Regions from separate parts of the Homo sapiens genome. Here region 2 is linked to region 1. A link means that fine-mapping ties the variant in region 1 to the expression of a gene that starts in the linked region. Tissue or cell type: whole blood. Region 1 holds a variant in brackets; the other region holds the start of a gene. All regions are shown on one strand. Distances are from middle to middle.

The links. PIP is the estimated chance that this variant, and not a neighbour inherited with it, causes the effect.
Region 2: it holds the start of CACNA1I, and the variant in region 1 is fine-mapped to the expression of CACNA1I in whole blood (TOPMed, PIP 0.96).

Annotation. Positions count from the first base shown.
Region 1 is chr22:39,672,510-39,680,608 of GRCh38, forward strand. It overlaps CACNA1I (calcium voltage-gated channel subunit alpha1 I), which reads left to right. Exons shown (of 37, transcript NM_021096.4): 28 at 440-573; 29 at 1,454-1,524; 30 at 4,832-4,910; 31 at 5,478-5,599; 32 at 6,598-6,936; 33 at 7,213-7,359. Among named protein-coding and RNA genes, the nearest start is that of CACNA1I, 110 kb to the left of the region's middle. The variant T/C (reference allele first, on the strand shown) is at 4,011.
Region 2 is chr22:39,566,446-39,574,544 of GRCh38, forward strand. CACNA1I (calcium voltage-gated channel subunit alpha1 I) reads left to right here and starts at 4,308. Exons shown (of 37, transcript NM_021096.4): 1 at 4,308-4,543. The coding sequence starts at 4,308.

The DNA of each region.
Region 1 (8,099 bases):
ACCTGGCCCTTCTTGGCTCATCTTTGGTACGTTGTCTCTACCCTATGGGCAGAGCAGGGTCTGCCTCATGCTAATACTCCTTTTTGAAGGGAATAGTGAGGCTCAAAGAAGTTGATGGACTAGCCTAAGGCCAGACAGAGAGAGCAGCCAGCTCAAGATTAGACTTGGAAGTCATAGTCCATGCCTCCTCTCCTGCAGGAGGCCAGAGATATTTATTTAGCCTGATCAGCCCCTTGCTTGACGGAGTGATGGCTATGGGGAGCAGAGAGGGGCCTGGACCCAGTGGCGTTAGGAGGGGCTAGTAAGGGAGGGCAGCCACACAGCCTAATGGGCCACAATAGAAGGGTCAGGACCTGGGAGGCTCCCCCCACTAAGGTGTGTCTGAACCAGAGGGATCCTCCTCATGCCCACTCCTGCCCTCCCATGCACGGCTGAGCAGATGGAACCAGCTGGACCTGGCCATTGTGCTACTGTCAGTCATGGGCATCACCCTGGAGGAGATCGAGATCAATGCGGCCCTGCCCATCAATCCCACCATCATCCGCATCATGAGGGTTCTGCGCATTGCCCGAGGTGAGGGGCAAGGGGTGGGACAGGGAACGGGGACAAGCAGGGGCGGGATGAGACTCCTCATTGCCTGATGAGAACACACAGGAGTGGGGTGGGGAGGGGTGGGGGCAGGAGTTTGCAGGCATGGTGGGCTCCTTGCTGAACAGGGGTGAGAAGGAGCTGGGAGGCACACAGCCAACACACACGCATGCACCCTCTGTGTGCACACACCTCCCCCAACACACAGGCAACTTTGCATAGCACACATGGACACACACTCCCACTTCCTTATGACGCCATGACCCATGGGGTCCAGTCTCAGAGTGTGATGCAAGGAACCCAGTCCAACTGGGAAGATGTGAAACACCTCCAGTTCCTCGCTGGCATTTCTCAAACACAGTGACTGGGACGCACGGTCTTCAGAGATCCTTCTCCCTCCCCTCAAGGTAGTTCGTACACTTCTTTTAAAAGCCTCCTGCCTCAGGGCGAGCCCAGGTGCCTCTTGCTCTTCTGCCTGCCAGAAACTCAGCGAGTGATGCCAGAGTCCTCTTTATCGAGAGGGGAAGAGAAGAGATGTGGCCACTCACGCTGGTCCTTTGTGCCCGTGACAGTTCATGGCCCACCCATTCACACACTTCATAGACCTCAGTTTCCATGAGTATGCCCCGTCCTCGGGGGCTTTTCTACAGTGACACCCACGCCTTGTGTCCACATGTTTTTGTGCATGCCCCACTCACCCTGTGGCTGCACCCACATTCTTGTAATGTGGTATCTGAGAGCCAGACTCTGCTTGCACGTGCCTTCATGTTCTCTTCTCCCAAGTTTACACACGTGCACACATGCGTGCACACACACGTCCCCACCGGCCTGGGGCTGAGTGGGCAGGGCTGGGTCTCGCCCGCAGTGCTGAAGCTGTTGAAGATGGCCACAGGAATGCGGGCCCTGCTGGACACGGTGGTGCAAGCTTTGCCCCAGGTAAGAGCCACTCTTTCTGGCAGCCCTCCTAGGGGTCATTGGTGTCAGGCTGGGCCCTGGGGCATGAAGGCCCTGATTTCCCTTCTCCTCACATCTGCCAGAGCCAGGGCAGATGCTGTCTCTGGGGATGCATTTTGAGCCAGGGGCTGAGAGGCAGGAAGGGTCCCTTTATGCCTCTTTCTTCCAGTTTCACCATGTGGTTGCCAGTGCCACTCTGTGTCCAGCCCTGTGCACGCACTGAGGGTCCACATTGTGCCCTTGGTTGCCCCCAGGCTGGTGGAGGGAGATGGATACTTCAGGGAGATGTGGGGAGGGACCTCCAGCATGCTCCAGAGAGAGAGAAGAGTGCCAGACACTCCCTGGGGAGATCAGGGAAGGCAGCCTAGGAAAGGGGACCTTTGAGCTTGACTTCCAAGGGTGGCTTGGCAGAAGGAGGTGGCAGTGTGGATGGAGAAGTTCCGAGATGGCATTCCAGGAGGGGCAGCATGAGACCCTGACCCAGGTGGGGATCTGAGAAGTTAGGGAAGTTGCTCTACCCGCACCCTGCGGTTAGTGAAAGGGGAGATGTGATCAGGGCCACAGAGGGCATCTTTTTCATCCTCCCGAGAATTCTGCAATCCCAGTCCTTCCCTCCCCCGCTGTCTTGACTGCTTGAGGCTCCCCTTCCCCCTCCCCTCAGGGTGGCCTCTGCTCTCAGCTGAGCCTCAGGCACATTTATTCATTATGACTCAACGAGTCATCAGGAAGTTTAGGTGCCTTAAAATACAAGGCACAGATACTGCACATTAAAAATGAGGATACAAGATTAATGGCCCAGGGAAGGTGGAAGCAGAGCTAATTCTTTCGGGGACCGGGGCTAAGGACATGGGTGAGTTCTGTTCCTGAATTTGGTGTGAGCTTCCCAGCAGCCTTGGTATAAAGGGAAAGTGGCATGGTCTGGATGGAAAGCAAGGGCATTCATTCAGAGACGTGGTTTTTCCTAACACTAAACCCCTTCAGGGGACTTTGTCCCATGGGAGATGGGGGTGATGCTGGGCTGCAGGCTGTGCCGACAGGAAGTAGATTGGAGCCCCGGCTTGGGCCATAATGCTTGAGAGCAAAGCCTGGGCCCTGGGCATGCGACTTAGCTTTTCGTGCCTCAGTTTCCTTGCCTGTGAAATGAGGATGGTGGTGAAGCATCGCTCCCTCAAGCGCTTATTTCAAAGGGCGGCGGTGAGGTGTCAGATGGTTAAAGCTTATGAAGCACTTAAGAGGTCTGGTTCATGAGAAGTGCCATTTAAGAGGCTGCTAGGGGTGGGGATGGTGAGTGTGTGGCTCGGCCTCCCTGGCCTCCTTGCTCCCTCTCCCCTTCCCCATGCTCTGACCCCTGGGCGGTTCTATCATGACTCCCAAATCCAGTGTGGAGCTGGCATGGGGCACGGCACATGGAGATGTTCAGGACATCCCAGCCTCCAGCAGGAGACCCAAGGTAGTCATTACAAGTGCATTAGCACTTGAGAAGAAGCACGTGCCAAGTGCCACTGGCCGTGAAATGGTGCTTACCCCTCAAAATCCATTTGCTGTTGCTCATGTTGTTGTATGGACATTGGCCATTTCCTCGATTCTACGTAAAGTGCTAGGAAAATGAAACTTCAGCCTCTTCCCACCAGTCTCTGCCCCAAGAAGAGGGAGGAGGCATCAGAGAAGGCTTCTCAGGGGAGGTGACCCATGGACTGGGCTTTGAGGGGTGGGGAGGAGGCATTTTACAGGCAAAGATAGAGGGTCCTCCCTGCAGAGGGAAAATAATATGCCAAGGCACTGTGGGGCTGTTTTCTGTGTGGCTGGAGTGTGTGGGATTGGAAGATCAGGCTGGGAGGGGGGTCCCTGGGGGCCAGGTCACAGCACACCTTCAGTGCTAGGGCAGCAGAATTGGGCTTTATCTTGCAGGCAGCAGGTGCCACAGGAGGGTTCTAGACAAGGAAGGCTGCAGCCGAGCTGCCTTTGAGAAGGTGGCTCTGCTGGCTGGGAGGAGAATGGATTGGAGGGAGAGGCTGGAGGCAGGGAAGCTGGTGAGGAGGCTGCTGCAACCCTGCCGGCTCTGAGATGCTGACAGCAGGGAGGGGACAGATAGAAAAGCTGACGGCAATCCTGGTTAAGAGATGCTGCCCCCGCCGGCCTGTGCAGGGCACAAAGCTGAATTCCTAGAGCCGCGACCACGCCAGATCCTTCTCAGCGGTCAGGGCCTTACAGTTGGCCTCACGGGTGCTCAGTAAGTGCTTGTTTTATTAATGAAGGGAACATCATTTAATTAGTCAGACACTAGCAGTGTAGAACGGCTGGCCAGGAAACCCTGCTCTGGAGTGGAGCGGAGAAACTCGAGGAGTGGTGATTAATGGGGTTTACTTTTCAGCAGTTAACGTGAACGTTTTCTGAGGGTTCTAAGGCCTTCTGAGGGTTCTAAGAGATATTTCATTTCTAGGGCAAGAATGTGTTTTAGCCTTATCTTA[T/C]CCATAGCATGAGTTAAAGGTGGTCTCCAATGCATGGATAGATTTGAACTAGGTTTGGAATCTGGGACGCTTTCTCCCACAGGAGCTGTGGGATGGGGGTGGCTGGGTTTGCAGAGGCTTCTGGGGCCCACGGGCCTGCGTGATTCCTGCCTTCCCTCCTCTCTATGGCCAGGCCTCATGCTGGCCCAAGGAGGCAAATCTGACCTCATGCAGCTGTGTTCCTGCTCTTGAAGATTTCCCAGACCAGCAGATGACAGTGACAGGGATAAGTGCATTTCGGTGGTTTCGTAGAGGAGCTAGTGTTAGAGCTGAGACCTCCTGCCTTCTCCCTTCCCTTCGTTCATCCATCCATTCAACCTTGGTAGCCACTCAAGGCGTGTAGCATAGATTGTGTGCATGGACCCTGGGGCCAGCCTGCTGGGTTTGGACCCTTGTCCTACCAGTTACTAGCTGTGCGACTCTGGACAAGTGATGTCACCTCTCAGTCTGTCTCCTTCTTCTTCTGAAGAATGGGGATAAAAGATAGTTCGTGGATTATTGTGAGGAGGAAGTGAGCTCATGAACCTTAAGTGCTGGAAATGGGACAGCTTGTGGTAAAGGTGGCACAAGTGTTTTCTTGTTATTCTGAGCCCTGTGCTGGACCCAGCCTGCCCTCCAGGTCCTGTAGGGGTGGCAGACGTGGACACACAGCCTGGGGGAATGTTACAGCTGCTCTGACCCACAGGCTGCCCAACCCCACTGCCCCAGCCTCCACCCTTCCCAGGCCTGGTGCGCCCCCACCCGCTCCCCAGCCCCACCCGGCCTCACCTGTCCTCCCGCAGGTGGGCAACCTGGGCCTCCTCTTCATGCTGCTCTTCTTCATCTATGCTGCTCTCGGGGTGGAGCTCTTTGGGAAGCTGGGTGAGTGACTCCCAGAGCAGGCCCGTGGTGGGGGTGCAGCAGGGCTGCAGGAGGAACTGGGGGGGCGGGGGAGGCCTGAGACCCCTGAGCCCGTCACATCAGGGTCTTTGTATTGGGGAGATGCCTACAGCAGGGCCCTCAGCTGTCTGGTCTCCCAGGAAAACTGCCCTCCCTACCCCGGTGTTGGTGCCTGTCCTGAGCCAGCGCCACCCCAGCAAGTGGAGAGGCCAGGGCAGGGGAAAGAGCAACAGAGCGCTCGCTGAGCTCCGCCCTGCACCGGGATGGCTCCAGAAAGCAGGGTTCCCCGAGGGGCTGGCCCTCACCCCATTTCACCCTCTTTCTCAGAAACCCATTCTTCGGCGGGGAGCAGAGCCAGACTCACCCAAACCTGAGCCCCAGCTCATGTGCCATCTCCCCGAGCCTCAGTTTATCTGTGGGCTGGGCACAGTCTGCAGGCCCCTCCTAGGGTGTGATGAGGGTTCTGAGGCGAGGCGGGAGGCACCAGGTCAGGGTGAGCCCCGCAGGCACTCCGCCATCGGGCAGGGCTGACCTCCTCCCCGCTTCCAGTCTGCAACGACGAGAACCCGTGCGAGGGCATGAGCCGGCATGCCACCTTCGAGAACTTCGGCATGGCCTTCCTCACACTCTTCCAGGTCTCCACGGGTGACAACTGGAACGGGATCATGAAGGTACTCCTGGGCGGGCTGGGGTGGAGAAATCAGCCAGGTGCTGGGACAGTGAGGATGCTGGTCCTGCTGCTCAGGGCTCTGCCCACCCAGGGCCCCACCACACATGGGAGGGGCATGCAGGGCACGGAGGAGTGGAGGGGCCTGCCCAGGACCAGCACAGTGGGGAGAGCTGAGCCAGAACAGGCCCCCTGTCTACACTGCCTCATCCCCCAGTGTTGCCTGGGATCAGGGCTCAGATTCTAGGGTAGACAACTCCACCCAGTTCCGGAGGGGACCTGGGGCCCAGGCAGGCCTGAAGGCCAGGGCCAGGCCCCCTAGTGATTTCCACGCTGACCAGGTCACCCGGCAGAGGCTCCCTGGCCTGGGCTGCAACCCGGGCTGGGCTGGGAAGGGCAGGGAGGGGCTCCCAGAGGACAGGGGTAAGGCCTCGGTTCCGGGGCCCTAGGGTGGAGAGGGCAGAGGTAGGCCTGTTCTGCCTCCCACCCCCACCCTGCAGAGCCCCCAGTGCCCCCAGCAAGGGGGCAGGAAGCCAGGGTGCTGGGAGAGGCGGCCAATCTCCTCAGCCCAGGGCGGGAAGGTGATGGAGTCTTCTTGGGCTTTGTGGTTGGGGGTTGAGCTGAAAAACCAGAAAGGAAGGACAGGGAGGCCCTGGTCACGAATGCACCCTACTCCCCAGGGGCCCCTGAAGGAAGCCCCAGATGCCCCTTCTCAGGCCTGACTGTCCCGGGGAAGCAGGCCAGCTGTGGGGAGGGTGACATGGGCAGGAGCAAGAGAGGAGGAGAGGGCGCTGGGCCATCCGTCTGTCCATGCGGGGACTTAGCTGAAGCTGAGGCAGGCAGATGCCGCAACAAGGCAGAGTGGGGCAGGGCAGCCCGGGGCCATCTCGGGGGTTGAATCTCGGTCTTGCTGCCTCCGAGCGTGGCCCTGGGCTGGCCTCTGCCTCCAGCAGCCTCTGGGATGTCTCCGTCCTCATCCTCACCGCCCTCCCTGCCACGCAGGACACGCTGCGGGACTGCACCCACGACGAGCGCAGCTGCCTGAGCAGCCTGCAGTTTGTGTCGCCGCTGTACTTCGTGAGCTTCGTGCTCACCGCGCAGTTCGTGCTCATCAACGTGGTGGTGGCTGTGCTCATGAAGCACCTGGACGACAGCAACAAGGAGGCGCAGGAGGACGCCGAGATGGATGCCGAGCTCGAGCTGGAGATGGCCCATGGCCTGGGCCCTGGCCCGAGGCTGCCTACCGGCTCCCCGGGCGCCCCTGGCCGAGGGCCGGGAGGGGCGGGCGGCGGGGGCGACACCGAGGGCGGCTTGTGCCGGCGCTGCTACTCGCCTGCCCAGGTGGGCAGGGGCTGGAGAGGTGTGAGGGTCGCCAGAGGGGGGGCACCGCAGGGCCAGATGGGCAGCAGGGCCAGGGAGGCCTTGCACAGAGACCTCTGTCTTTCTGGGCCCCACCCTGCTCAGCTCCATAGAAGGGGTGACCCTGTGATGAGGGGGTCGGTCCCAGGCCATGGGCGCAGAGAACCAACCGGGAGGGCAGCTGTGTCCTGCCCACCCCACAGCCCCGGGACCCGGCTGATAATCCCGCCTGTCCCCACCCCGTCCCCGTCCGCCTAGGAGAACCTGTGGCTGGACAGCGTCTCTTTAATCATCAAGGACTCCTTGGAGGGGGAGCTGACCATCATCGACAACCTGTCGGGCTCCATCTTCCACCACTACTCCTCGCCTGCCGGCTGCAAGAAGTGTCACCACGACAAGCAAGAGGTAATGGCAGCCCGGGAGGCCTGGCCCCTTGTGGCAGGGGCAGCACGAAACCTGGTGGGGGGCCTGTCCGAGGGCAGAGCCTGGCTCTGGGCTGTAGAGACCAGGCTGGGTCAACGTGGGCACACGTAGCTTCCATGGCTGGGGCAGATTGGCTCCCTGAGTCAGGGCCAGGTGTGGGCCTGTGGTGTGGTGGCCACAGCTGCCGACCCCAGCACCATGCCGCACACAGTAGGTGCTTGGGTAGGGCAGCTGCCCCACCTTGTGTGCTGCAGGTGCCAGGCAGGGAGCCTGTGTGTCACTTGCAGGACAGCTTGCCCTTTCTGTGACATGAGGGGTCATCTGCCCGCTCTTCCCCCAAGGCATCATCCTGGCACTCAACCTCCTCCAGGTGCCCTGTCCTGGCCTCCACCTCAGGGCTTAGGCCCACCCAGCTCAGGGGTTCCCATGGGCCTGCCTCCAGAGCAGGCGCAGTTAGCCCCCTCCCCTCTCCCCAGCAGTGTGGGCCCCTGAGCTCTCCCTGGGGTGTTCCAGCCCCCAGAGTGGCCCCAGCCTCAGGTGGCTGCAGGGCAGGTCCCCAGGAACCATCAGCAGGAGCTGGAGGACTGGGCTGCCCCACATCCCTGCCCTGTGGTGGCTGCAGATTCTCCGGTGTCTCTGGGCCCCGCAGTGTCCCCTGCCTGTGACACGCTGTGCAGGTCATCCACATGGGGCCATAGATGAGTCAAGTCCAGCCCAGTCTT
Region 2 (8,099 bases), 110 kb before region 1:
TCTGCCTCCTGGGTTCAAGGGATTCTTCTGTCTCAGCCTCCTGAGTAGCTGTGACTACAGGTGTGCGCCATCATGCCTGGCTTATTTTTGTGTTTTTAGTAGAGATGGGGTTTCACCATGTTGGCCAGGCTGGTCTCCAACTCCTGACCTCAGATGATCTACTCGCATCGGCCTCCCAAAATGCTGGGATTACAGGCGTGAGATACCACACCTGGCAGCCCATCATGTTGCTTCTTAACAAGAGCCTGCTGAAGCAGGCTGGAGGAGGGCTGAGCTTTACAGAGAAAAACTGAGGCTCTAAGAAGCTGACGGAGTCAGGAATGGGGGTCTGTGTTCCAGACACAGCAGGCTTCTGCTCCTATCCCTGCTCTTGGAGGCCAGCCTAATTGCCACACTGCTGCTTGGTGGGCTACTCAGGGGAAGGAGCATCAGGGTTAGGTCCTGGGAGCACCTAGAAGAAGGGGACTCAGGGATGTGGAGGCAGCTCAGACTCTGGCACCTGATGGACCTGAGTTTGAATCCACCAATGCTGTCACCTAAAGCAAGTCCTTTAGTCTCTGTGACTGCGGACAGATTGGAGCCCAGGGAGGCCCAGCTGCCAGTCCCCTCAGGGCTTCCAGCCATGGGCACACAGGCACCTGCGATAGGAGCTAGGCCACAGACACAGGAAAGAGAGATATCTGGACTGGACTTGGGGGCTTTGGGAGTGGGGAGTGGGTCAGGGAGTAGTGGCCTGGGAAGCTGCTAAGGAACAGGTCAGAGGGAGATGGTCTGGGTGGTCACTGGGAACAGGTCAGAGGGTGGAGGCTGGGTGGTCACTGGAAGCATGTCCGAGGGTGGAGGCTGGGTGGTCACTGGAACAGGTCAGAGGGTGGAGGCTGGGTGGCCGCTGGGAGCAGGTCAGAGGGTGGAGGCTGGGTGGACACTGGGGAGAGAGTTGAGGGTGGTGGCCTTAGGGGTGTGGTTTCTGGGAGCACCACAGTGAGGGGAGAGGTGTGAGCACAGAGGGCAGCACAGTGTGGCGGCATTAAACAAGCCAAGAGAGGCAACAAGCAAGTCAGTGCAAGCGACGTAGCCCAGAGGCAGGAAGTGGGTAGTTTTGTGCAGTCCCGGAGGCCGGGGGAGCTCTTTCCACCTGTGTGGTTTCAGGAAGGACTTCGGTAATGCTGGGGCGAGGGTTGCAGGTGGGCCACTGCAGTTGCTGCGAGACCAGGTGCTTTACCTCGAGAATAAATCTCAATCCACCGCCTTCTCCCTGTCTTCACCAGCAGCCAAGGGCAGGCCAGCCCAGCTCCTCCCAGCCCTTCCTGCTCCACCCCTTCCCCTTCATCCACTCTCCCTTCAGCCCCTGGAGAGATGGCTTAGAAACAGACCAGAGCACACCACTCCCCTGCCTAAAACCCACCTGTGGCTTCTACTGAACTTGGGATAAAACCCACGCTCCTCTGTGTTCTCCCCCAGGGCCCTGCTGAACTCTTTGGTTTCATCCGCCTCCCTGCCCGAGGCTCGGCCTCGCTTGTGTTCCTTAAATGCACCGAGCGGGCCCCATTCTCCTGGCCTTCGCACGTGCTCTTCCTCCTGTGCTCTTCCAGCAGATCAGTCAGGGCTGCGGCCTCCCGCGTCTTGGTTTTCACTTAAACATCTCTTCCTTTAGAGAGGGCAAGATGATTGTCTCCACTCCCACCTTTCCCCTTGTTTATTTACTTCCCAGCACTTTTTATTCACTGAGTCAACAAATATCGATTGAGCACCTAGTATGCTCCAGGCACCATTCCAGGTGCTGGGGATACAGCAGTGAGGGGATACACCTCCCTTACAGGCTTCTCTTAGGCTGGGGAGACAGACACCAAATCATGGAGATATAAAGACATAAATTATGCACCGTGTTTGATGGTGATAAGAGTTGTGGAAAAGCAGAAAGAGAGAAATTAATTGATCGGTGTGTCTCTCTCCTCTGCGGAAGTGTGGGCTGAATGGGGGCTGGTGCTGAGTCTGGCTCGTGCCCCAGCATAGCCCGAAGCCCACACAGTGCCCACACATAGTAGGTGCTCATTGGGCAAATGAATGAATCAGTAGGGCCTGGGAGAACAGGGCCTGGGCGGAAGGAGAAGGTGCCCCAGTGAGAGGGAAGAGCGGGAGCAGGGCCTAGGACCTGAGGAGGTCCAATCTGGCCAGAGCAAATGGCCAGGGGAGGGAGTGGTGGGCTCCGAGGCTGGCACGGTGGTGGGCAGAGCTGGAACCACCCTAGGGAGGGTGCGTTTCAGCCCAGGAGGTTGACACGTGGCAGGCCAAGGTGCCTGGGAGCTTATGTAAGGCCCGTGGCTGTTTTTCTGGAATCAAGAGCAAAGCCCTGAGCTCAGGAGAAAACTCCGCCTCCCTGACCAGCCAGGGGAAGTGGCAGGAGGTGCCAACCCCTGCCCGTTGCCCCCGGGAGCCAGAGAAATGTCCAAATGCATCAGCTCCGGGTGGCTTGGTCGACAGCCCAGCAGCAGCTGGGTGGGCACCAGGGACGTGGACCCCATCTCTCAATCCCACGGCTCAGACTGGCCCTGTAGGGGTTCTAGGATCCCAGGGACCCCAGTGGACAAAGTTTTAGGGACTAGTACCCTTTGGGGTGAGGTGGTGAGGGGCAGGCCCTGGGAGTGGCTGTCCGTCCCATCTTGCCATTGACTGGTTGCGGAGGCTCTCGGCCAGCGAGGGCACCATCAGTTGTCATGAAGCCCGCCTGGGGGTCTGGTGCTGGGATTCTGGCCTCTCAACACCACCTAGTGCTTCACTTGGCTGGGTGCATAGCCTTGACAACCCGCTTTGTTCTCTTGGCCTCAGTTTCTTCACCTGCCAAATGGGCATAATAGTCCTCCTGAGGTTGTTGTGAGCATCAGACAAGGCCAGGGAGTAGAAGTGCTTTGAGTTGGAGTCGGAGCCAGCAAGATGATTTGCATCACCTAGAACAAAATGAAAATGTGGGACCTCTTGATAAGCAATTAAGAATTTCATGTTGGTGACAGAAGAATTCTAAAGCAAGTTCAGGGCCCTTCTGAGCACGGGGCCCTGTGCAGCTGCCTGAGCCACAGACCCAGGAAGCGGGCTCTGACCGGAATTCTTTTTTTTTTTTTTTTTTGGTGACAGAGTCTTGCTCTGTTGCCCAGGCTGGAATGCAGTGGTGTGATCTTGGCTCACTGCAACCTCCACCTCCCGGGTTCAAGTGATTCTCATGCCTCAGCTTCCCGAGTAGCTGAGATTACAGCGTGTGCCACCACACCCAGCTAATTTTTGTATTTTTAGTACAGATGAGGTCTCACTATGTTGGCCAGGTTGGCCTCAAACTCCTGACCTCAGGTGATCCACCCACCTTGGCCTCCCAAAGTGCTGGGATTACAGGTGTGAGTCACGTGCCTGGCCTTTGACTGGAATTCTATTTCTGCTGTTACTCTGCTACATGTCTGTCCTGTCCCTTCTCTGGGCCTCGGTTTCTTCATCTGTAAGGCAAGGAGGTTAGACTCTAAGATTCCTGGGTTCTCAGCCTTGTAAGGCAGTGGCTGGGAGGTCCCTGGGTCAAGGGCTCAGCTGTAGGTCTCAGCTCAGGGGTTACTTCCTCAGGGAAGCCAACTGTGATTCCCTCCTGGCTTGCCAGCGTTCCCCCAGTCTCTGATTCTGCAGCACCCCAACATTGCCTTTGTAACCTGCATTGTCCTGGCAATAATGTCTGTCTTTACAATCACCTCTTTTTTCTTGCAAGTTTTCTTTACCTTTGATGGTGCAATAAATACATAGCTCTAGTCTTGTAAAAAAGTTAAGATCCCTTCCTTCCTTCCTTCCTTCCTTCCTTCCTTCCTTCCTTTCTTCCCTCCCTCCCTCCCTCTCTCCCTCTCTCCCTCCCTTCCGTCTTTCTTTTCTGTCTATAATTACTTAAACATTTTTTCTCTTAAATAATGAAAGATTTCAAATACAGAAAATTGCCAATAGACAAAAAAAAAAGAGTTAATATCACAATTATATTCTAAGAAGGCTTTATTCTCCCCACTATCTTCGTTTGCCAAAACTGAGGCTCAGCCAGGGTGAGCAGACTTGCCCCATGATCACCCAGCTTGGAAGCAGATTCCAAGTTGGGTGCAGCTGGGCCCTCAGCTGTTTCGTAATCCTCATGCAAGAGTGAGGGTGAGGGGCCTGTGGGGCTCAGGTGGGGCTGTCAGAGCTGCATCCGTCCACTTATTGGTGGAGAGGCAGGTTGGGGAGCATGTACCAGGCCTGTCCCCACCACGTGCCACCCTCTCTGTCTTCCCCAGGGCTCCCAGCTCAGTGTGGACATGGCTGAGAGCGCCTCCCCGCCCTCCTCATCTGCAGCAGCCCCAGCCGCTGAGCCAGGAGTCACCACGGAGCAGCCCGGACCCCGGAGCCCCCCATCCTCCCCGCCAGGCCTGGAGGAGCCTCTGGATGGAGCTGATCCTCATGTCCCACACCCAGACCTGGCGCCTATTGCCTTCTTCTGCCTGCGACAGACCACCAGCCCCCGGAACTGGTGCATCAAGATGGTGTGCAACCCATATCCTCCGCAGCCTCGGCTGATCGGGGCCCTGCAGGGGCTGAAGGGTGGGGGGCTGGATTGAGTCCTGCTGCTCACACCTTGCTCCGGCTGGGAGACCTGAGGTCTGCGGTGAGGCCACTGGGCCTTGGTGGTGGTGAGCGAGCTCAGAGGGTGGGTCTGGGGAGACCTCAAATGGATGAGGACCTGGTGTTCTGCTGATGTGAAGGTTCTGGAAGTTGCTGGTGGCTGTGGGGTCAGTCCAGTGGCTGGCTGGCTCAGAAAGTCCTTGAGTGTGGGCCCCAGACCTGTGCTGGGCTGGGAATGCAGATCAGTCAGACTCTGGAGCCACCTGATGGGCCGTGACCATACAGAGGATGGGAGCCGTGATCAGGAACTGTGGGCGTGGGCAGCGGGGCAGCCGATCCCAACACACAGGGCAGGACTCATTCTCCTTACTGTGCCTCCGAGCAGCCTCTTCCCAGGCCTCCTGCCTCCACTTGCTGCCTCCAGTGGGCTCATGTTCCCCCTGCTTAAGACTGTCATGATTTGCTATGGTCCTGGAGGTGCAGAGCAAAGTCCTAATCCAACCCATCAGGGCCTGTGTGTTCCACCCAGCCTCACTTCCCACCACTTGGCTTCCCCCCTGTGCTCTTCTGAGCCTCAGGGTCCTCTCACTGGCTCTTCCCCCTGTCTGAAAAGCTTTTCCCTTCCCCCTGGACCTGGCCAAATCCTTTGCTACATCCTTAAAATCCCAGCTTAAGCATCACCTCCTCAGGGAAGCCCTCTGGGATTCCTCCTCTGCTTCATATCTAACTGTCACATCTAACTGTGGAATTCTGAATCTAACATTTGCCTCCCCTGGGGTACTGTCAGATGACTGGGATGGGGACCCTAGCACCTGGCACAGTGCTTGGCACATCGTGGGTGCTCTGGCAGTGTTTGCTGGGTGTACATGGGCAATGCCAGAGCTGACTCCTCAATAAGGAAGAGCGTTGGTTGGGTAGAGAGGGTAGTGGGAGGCAGGAGGAGGGCATGGCAGGAGCGAAGCCTGGAGAAGGGAGGAGTTGCAGGCAGTGTTGGAGCCCTGAGGGGCAGAGAGGAGTGAGGTGAGGCTGCAGGTGTGGCGGGAGCCCTGCAGGGCCTTGGAGGCTGCATGAGGGATGGGACTGTGCTCCAAGGGCAGGATTTGAAGCAGGGTCTGGAGAGATCTGTGCTCTGGAAGGACTGTGTGGCACTGGCTTGCAGGGTGAAGTGGGGGCTGGGGACCACTGAGGAGGAGGCTTGGGGACCCAAGCCATGGTGGCCTTGTGGTTTGAGGGTCCCACCAAAAAATGCCCATATGTGGCTCGAGGTTCTGGTGCTTGTGGCCACACAGGGCAGGGTGCGGGGAGCTGGTGGGTCAGGTGCAGGCCTGAGTCCTGCCCTGGAATCCAGGGATGCCAGATGCAGGCTGGGATGTTGAGACTGGCTGCAGGACTGCCAGGCTTCCCTTCTGTAGGGGGCTGAGGTGATCGTGGGCCCTGGATCCCCCTAACTTTTGGAAACCAGCGGGTCTCTGCTGGAGTGGGATGCAGAACTGGGTGTTCCTTGCTGGGTGGGGGCTAAGAGCCTCCCTGCTCCTTCTGGGGGACGGCTCACAGCGTCTCAGGCTTGGTGAGAGGGTCTGCTCGGTAATTAGTTCACCCAGCACTCACTGACATCTGCCCTGGGACACTGAGGACAAAGAGGCAGAGCTGGTGTCTGTCCCAGGGAGTGCCCGGGGAAGAGGGAAGCAGGGACCACCCATTTGGCTAGTTTTTTTTTTTAGATGGAGTCTCGCTCTGTCACCCAGGCTGGAGTGCAGTGGCGCGATCTCGGCTCACTGCAACCTCCGCCTCCCAGGTTCAAGCAATTCTCCTGCCTCAGCCTCCCGAGTAGCTGGGACTACAGGCACCCACCGCCATGCCCTACTAATTTTTGTATTTTTAGTAGAGATGGGGTTTCACCATGTTGGTCAGGCTGGTCTCGAACTCCTGACTCGTGAACCGCCTGCCTCGGCCTCCCAAAGTGCTGGGATTACAGGTGTGAGCCACTGTGCCCAGCCTACGTGGCTAGTTTTAATACAAAGCACTGGGGAAACCTCAGGGGCTTGTGGCATGTGAACAGAGGAGTGCCAGGCCTGAGAAGGGGGCGGCCGCAGGAATTTTGGGCCTTTAGGAAGAGAAAGGCTGGTAGGAGGACCAGGGGGACAATTTCACAATGTCTCAGGGGCCTTTCCTGGGTGAGATGACAAGAGTTGATTCTGGCTCTGTCACTTGGGTGCTGTGTGACCATGAGTAAGTCACTTTGCTTCTTTGAACCTTAGGGGGTCTGGATGGGCAATACTGCTCTGGGCTGGAGGCAGGGGCATGGCTCAGAGGACTTGGCCTGGGAGTCTGACCCAGCTGCGTCTCTGATGGGCTCTGGCTGGGCTGGCTGGGGTGCTGCCCACGTGTCACGGAGAGGCCCCTAGATGGGGGTGGTCAAGTCCTGTCTGCCATGTGTGTGACCCTGGGCAGTCTCCTCTCTCTGAGCCTCAGCACCTCCACCTAAAAAGGAGACGGCAGACGAATCACCCCTTCCAGCCCTGGGAGCCCAGGGTGTTAGCCACACACGCCATGGGGGCTGCCTTGATCTCAGGCACCCTGACGCCTGACCACTGAGTGAGCCAGCCCCTGGGAACCCACCCAGTTTTCCATATTTCTGGCCTGTTGGGCAAACAGAGTCCTTGGGGCCACTGTCTCCTTGGTTTTCACCACCCCTCTCACCTCCATCCTCAGGTCATGTGGGTTGTGGCCTGGGGTTGGAGACAACAGTGGGGCTGGCCCAGGAGGGAGAGGAGTACTGGTTTCGGGAGGAGCTGGGCCTGCCTCTTGTCTGTCTTGGAGAGAGCCCTGGGTCCAAGGGGTGGGGCAGAAAGCAGCCCCCCTCCATCAGGAGGGACTTTTCAGTCCCGGGAGCTGCGCAGAGCGAGGGTTCCCCCGGCATCCCCATGGCCAGGGCTGCTGAGGCTGGACTGGGATAGAGGTGGTTCAGGTCTCGGCCTTAACTGGTGGGATACGGACTCTCTTCAGGCCAGAGATGTGGCGACTCAAAAGCACAGCAACTTTAAAGGTGTCAGCTCTGGGACACTCAGACTGAAAACTTCTGCGACAGTCTAAGGGTTCAAAGTTAAGATTTAAGGCTCAGCGACACTGAAATTCTAAGCTTCTGTCATTCAAAGGCTGCAAAATTCTGTGTTTCAAAGAGTGTGTGAGCCTAAGACTTGGTGGCTGTGATGCTGTGTGCCTACGAGTTGGAGGATTCTGGACCCGGTGGCTGCAGCCGCTGCTGGCCTGAGAGTTCATAGCTGAATTGGGTCAGGTGGGAGAGGGGCCAAGGAGGGTTCCACAAACAGAGACCCAGGAGACGTGGCTGTCCATAGGGCTGTCCCCTGGAGCAGAGACTCAGTCGTGGGGAGCTCAGGGTGGGCTTTAGGGGCTTGGGATGGGGTGCGTGTGTGGGTGGGGCAGGGGCTGAAGCCTCTAGGATTCTTTCCTGGCTGGAAACTTCACTC